2 separate regions of the Homo sapiens genome follow, and region 1 is linked to region 2. The links come from fine-mapping of genetic effects on gene expression. A gene starts in region 2. The other region holds a variant in brackets. All regions are shown on one strand. Distances are between the middles of the regions. Region 1 overlaps DPEP1 (dipeptidase 1). Region 2 holds the start of SPATA33 (spermatogenesis associated 33).

Region 1 (2,899 bases), 43 kb after region 2:
GCATCTGTGCCATCTGGGAACATTCTGGTGGAGCAATCGCCCTGTCCTCGAGGTCGGCCATACACGCTGGGTCTTCACCACCCCGGGGATGCAGATGCCTCCTGGCGACCCCCTCCTCCATCCAAGGACCCCTCCCGGCACAGCCCCGAGCACACCCGCTGTCTCCCCTCCTTTCCGCCCGTCTGTCCGATCCTCTCACAGCTGGCTGGGCCATACTGCTCTGTGAAACTGTGCCCGGTCAGCCCCGGAGTGGGTGACCCAGGACCCGCTGGCTGTGTCCTTCCAGGGCACAGGTCCCAGCCTCTCCTGTTTCGTCGACACTGGCTACCTGTGTGGGCTTGTCTGTTTCTGGGCTCTGAGCCCTATCCCCACAGCACTGACTCCCCCACCCACCTGAACCCCCAGCCCAGCCCCCGAAGCCCCACGGACCCAGCCTCCTGCTGCGCACCCCAGCTGGAGTTCAGGGAGCATTTTAAATTCACTTTTTGTGTTTTTTTTTTGAGATGAAGTCTTGCTCTGTCACCCAGGCTGGAGTGCAGTGGTGTGATCTCAGCTCACTGAAACCTCTGCCTCCCAGGTTCAAGTAATTCTCCTGCCTGGGGACACGACACGTAGGGGACGCCTGAGCCCTGCGCCTTTGGGCCTCAGTATCTGTGAAATGGGCCTGTGAAAGGGGTGGACACTCAGAGGCCAGGGCGGGCCTTGGTGCTTGGTCTCCCTCCACACAGCCCACTCCTCTCCAATTCACACCCCACCAGCCGGCCAGGACCCCGGGGCCCCCGTGTTGACCGCCTGCCTGGCTGCTGCAGCTCCTGCCCTCTGGTGGCCAAATCCCAACGTGCCTCCGTGGGGCCGGTTCCCGGCTCCAGTTCACCGGGGCCTCGCGGGGTCCTGCAAGGCGGGGTCCTGGGGGCTCACTTCACCCAAGAACCAGCTGCTCCTCCCTCAGGGTGGGCTCTGCCTGTGGGCTCTGAAGACCTGGGAAGGCTGAGCAGGTGCTCGGAGCCACCACTGCTTCCATGGGTGTCCTGCCCTTTAACCCACGCCCTCACCCCTGAGAGCAAGGCTGCTGTTACCCCTGTCTCCTACTCTTGGAAACTGAGGTAGAGAAGACAGGTCCAGCCCCCTGGCTCATGGGAGATGGAGCCAGGATGTACGCACAGGACACAGGTCCAGAGACTCCAGAGCTGCGTGTAGACCAGCACCACTGCCCTGCCAGGCCCGCCTGCCCGCTCTGTACCCAGTGGGAGCTGGGAGCCTCAGCCCGACCTGTGAGGCCACCCCTCAGGGGCGGCTCTGAGAGGCCGCTTTGGGGCTCAGTGTCCGTCCACCGCAGCCTACGTCCCCCTGAAGCTGCAAGCAGGGACTGAGGGACCCTCCCCGTCTGCTCCTGGCCTCCGACTGGAGATTTGTCAAAGCTGACCTTTTGTC[G/C]ACAAGGAGACTGAGGCCCAGCGGGAGGTATTTTAGAGACACTTCCACGTTTGGAGGCCCTAGATGCCCCCTTCCACCCATGACACCCACTGAGCTTCTCCATGGGGTCAGACGCCAATCAGCAAGAATTCGCCAAGAGATGTGGAGGCTACTAGACCCTCACCATGAAAATAGCTTGGCTGTGTAAGAGCCATTGGCCGAAGTAGGTTCTGCCCTTCGCTAGCCCAGCCGCAGCTCCAGACTCCAACTTCCGCCTGTGCCCAAGGCTTTCTCTCTAGCATGTCCTGTGATAACCCTGAAGCTCCCCGCACCCTACCCGGGGAGAAGATTTTTCTTTTATTTTTTTGGATACGGAGTCTCGCTCTGTCACTCAGGCTGGAGTGCAGTGGCACGATCTCAGCTCACCGCAACCTCCGCCTCCCGGGTTCACGCCATTCTCCTGCTTCAGCCTCCCGAGTAGCTGGGACTACAGGCGCCCGCCACCACGCCCGGCTAATTTTTTGTATTTTTTATTAGAGACGGGGTTTCACCGTGTTAGCCAGGATGGTCTCGATCTCCTGACCTCATGATCTGCCCACCTCGGCCTCCCACAGTGTGGGGATTACAGGCGTGAGCCACCGCGCCCGGCCACAGCTTTGATTTTCATTCAGCAAATCCTTTCCACCTGGAAGGAAATTGTGGGGCCGGACAACAGGCCCTGCTCTTAGCTGGGCGGGAAGGCAGATGACTGCGCAGAGAATTCCAGAACAGAGAGTAAGTCCGGGGACTCGGCGCTCCTCACACAGCCTCTGAGAACTCTTCCTGGAGGAAGGGGTACGTGAGCTGAGTCCCAAGGGTGCCTAGGACCGCACTGGGCGCCACAAGGAAGGAACAGCCGGCACAGTGGACAAGCGGGGTTGTGGGGCCTCTGGAGGGCCTGGCGGGTCCAGACCTCATCCTAGGGACCACGGGGAGGGCCAGTGGGAGGACAGCGGCGGGTCTGAGAGCAGCTCTCCCACCTCCTTGAGTCCCAGGAAGCCGCCGCGTCCCCTGCCCCACACACCTGGCCCCAGTTTCCTAGAATCCCAGGAAGCAGCCGCGTCCCCTGCCCCACACACCTGGCCCCAGTTTCCTAGAATCCCAGGAAGCAGCCGCGTCCCCTGCCCCACACACCTGGTGCCAGCCTCCTAGAATCCCAGGAAGCTGCCTCGTCCCCTGCCCCACACACCTGGTCCCAGCCTCCTAGAATCCCAGGAAGCCGCCCCGTCCCCTGCCGCACACACCTGGCCTCAGCCTCCTAGAATCCCAGGAAGCCGCCGCGTCCCCTGCCCCGCACGCCTGGTCCCAGCTTCCACCCACAGTGGTGCCCTGGGGTCCCCGGGCCTGCACCACCCCAGGTGGGCACCCCAGTACCCTGGCGCACCGACTCCCCAGCCCACTCACCCTGGCCTCTGCGATGCAGACTTGCTCCCTGGCAGGGCCCGGCCTA
Region 2 (2,880 bases):
CCACTGCGCCCAGCCGAGTGGTTCATTCTTGTGATGAAACTTAAAACACCTCCTCCTGGCACAGGCCCCCAATCTCCTCGGACGGCAGGCTCTGCGGGTTCTCCCTGCCTGACCCTTCTGCAATTCCTACTGCAAGGCCTTGCTGGCTCCCACTGGGCCACAGCAATGGGTCTCTGACCGGGCCACCTCCCCTGCGAACTGGCTTCCCCTGTTGGTAGGCACAGACCTCATCATGCCGCCCTTGTTTTTTATTTTTAAATATTTATTTTTTGTAGAGACAGGGTCTCACTATGTTGCCCAAGCTGGTCTTGAACTCCTGGGCTCAAAAGATCCTCCTGCCTCGGCCAAATAACTGGGAGGACAGGTGTGAACTACCGCCCCAGGCAGCACCTCCGTTGTTTAAAATATTTAACGCTTCCAGCTCCACGTGGTAAAACTGATGGAAAACTTTGTATTCTAGCTTCTTCCTACTTTTGGGGCCTCATCTTCCCCACACACACCCAAAGGTCTGGCCACACTAGGCTGTTATAAAAGACACCTTTGTCGCACCCAGGTTCTACTCCTCGGTCACCCTCCGCAATGTACTTATCCCCACAGCCCTCGGAGAGCTACAGTCCAGCCTGGGACGGCCTCCCAATGCTCTGTTCCAGTGTGCGGAGGCTCAGGGATTCTCAGTGGCACCAAGATACCCAGCCCTCGAGGAGAACCTCAGGTGAGACACACGCACACTGCCCCAGCCCCTCGACCACCTGGTACGCACTTATCACTCGGGAACTGACCTACATTTTCATTAAACTTATGTTTTCAACTAAGATTTCTGGATATTTACCTCCTACATAAAGTTCCCAAAACAAACCAGTTTCATCTTTACGGCGCGTGCCTGCTACTAGTGTCCATCCGGTAGGGTCTTACAGTAGGCTCCTCACCCCAGCCCCAGATCCTCCAAGCCACTGACCTCGCTTCGCTCCCTCCCGCCGTCTCCTACCTTCCAGCGAAGCTGCCGGCGGCGGGTGCTTGGCTGTCCCGGCCCCCGGGTGGAGGCTGTCCACAGGCTTCTCCGACTCCCTGTCTGCCTGCCTGGCTTCCTGGGAATGCTTCTCCATCAACTTCTCCTTAGATTTTGGAACTGAATAGGTGGATCCCTTCTTTTGCTCCTCACCTGAAATATATGGATCATCCGTTAGACCCGGGACTTACCGAATGCAGGGCAGTGGGTCCCATCGTCTTCAGTCGCCTGCGTGGGTCCAGAATAAGCTGGCTTCAAGTCTCGAGTCTCCGCGTTTCCGTAACCGCCTCAGGCGGGAAACGCGCCGTCCGTGGCGGACTCGGCGGCAGGAACGGTTCGCACCGGGCCGAGCCTGGCGCCTGCGCTCACACCGCCCCGCCCAGCCCAGCCCCGCCCTGGGCCCGCGCCCAGGGGCGGAGACGCGGGGAGCCCAGCGCCTGCGCCTCCTTTACCTTTCCTGGGTTTCTCTTTGCTTTTGGAAAGGCCCATGGGTGAGCCCACCGCCCCCTCCGACGCAAGCCCGGGTCCCCACACCTCCGCGGCCGCGGAGCCGGGAGCGACTCACAAAAGGTCCTCGCGCCAGCGGCGTGCGTCACCATGGCGACCGCGCGCCGCGCAGCCGCGCCCCGCCCCTCTGGCGGGACCGGCCACCATCCTCTCGCGAGAGCATCCCGTGCGACCGGAAGTGGGGCGGCGACCCCGGAAGTCCCCGCCGGGTGCAGCTTGGTCGGTTCGATCGCCGCCGGGACCTGACACCGCCCGGAGTTGGCGTCCCTTCTCCCTCTCCGAGTGCTGCTCCTGTCATTGTGGCCATGGACGGTAAGAGGTCGCGGCCGTCCTCCGGGGACTCGCGCGCGGGGCGGGGCCGCTTCTCCCACTGGCGTGGGCTCCGCCCACCTGGGGCCGCGGGCAGGACTCAGGAGAGCTCGGGCCTCGACCGTCGATCCCCCGGGACCCCATCCCCAGGGCCTCGACCACCGACCTGGGACCCCTTTTCCCGGTCGTCGTCCCCCGATCCCCGACCCGGACCCCATCCCCAGGGCCTCGACCACCGACCTGGGACCCCTTTTCCCGAGCCTCGTCCCCCGATACCCGACCCGGAACCCCTTCCCCAGGGCCTAGACCACCAACCCGGGACCCCTTTTCCCGGGCCTCGACCCTCGATCCCCGACCCGGAACCCCTTCCCCAGGGCCTCTACCACCGACCCGGGACCCCTTCTCCCGGGCCTCGACCCCCGACCACCGACCGGGACCCTTCCCAGGCCCCCGACCCCCAACCCGAGATCCTTTACCCCGGGCCTCGACCCTCGACCCGGGACCCCTCCCCCCAGGCCTCGATCCCCGACCCCCGATTCGGGACCCCTTCCCCGGGGCCTCCATCCCCAAATCTCAACCCGGTATGCCTTCCCCGGGGCCTCGACCTCTGACCCCCAACCATGGACCCGGGACCTAGACTCCCGACCCAGGACCCCTTGCCCAGGGCCTGGACCCCCGACCACCGACCCAGGACCCTTTCCCCCGCCCCTGGCACTCCTCAGCGTCAGGCGCCCTTTCCCGCCAGCTCGGTAGGGGGGACTGTGCGATGCCTGTTCGGCCTTTCGGGACTTGGAATGTCGGGTCAGAGGGCACCAGAAAAAGTGACAGTTGCACCCCCTGCCCCAAACAGCATCACTGCAAATCAGAAGGACTCAGACAGAAAGCGCTCCCTGAGTGCCAGGCCCTGGTCACAGCAGCTCTTTGCGTCCATTCTCCATGTGGGGAAGCAGAGGTTTGAGCAGGAGCCAGCACAAGCGTTTCTGTGCTCAATGGGTCGCCCTAATTCTTACCTTCTACATCTGGGGCTAGCCGGCTGTGTGCTCAGGGATACCAAAGAA

What was found. PIP is the estimated chance that this variant, and not a neighbour inherited with it, causes the effect.
Region 1: its variant is fine-mapped to the expression of SPATA33 in ileum (GTEx, PIP 0.97).

What each region holds. Positions count from the first base shown.
Region 1 is chr16:89,613,674-89,616,572 of GRCh38, reverse strand. DPEP1 (dipeptidase 1) reads right to left here. Exons shown (of 11, transcript NM_001389466.1): 1 at 2,854-2,899. Among named protein-coding and RNA genes, the nearest start is that of DPEP1, 1.5 kb to the right of the region's middle. RefSeq lists enhancers at 360-1,062, 1,063-1,767. The variant G/C (reference allele first, on the strand shown) is at 1,432.
Region 2 is chr16:89,656,527-89,659,406 of GRCh38, reverse strand. It overlaps SPATA33 (spermatogenesis associated 33), which reads right to left and starts at 1,571. Exons shown (of 3, transcript NM_001271907.2): 1 at 1,459-1,571; 2 at 986-1,159. The coding sequence starts at 1,495. It overlaps CHMP1A (charged multivesicular body protein 1A), which reads left to right and starts at 1,699. Exons shown (of 7, transcript NM_002768.5): 1 at 1,699-1,825. The coding sequence starts at 1,819. RefSeq lists an enhancer at 1,418-1,587 and silencers at 1,303-1,692, 1,913-1,972.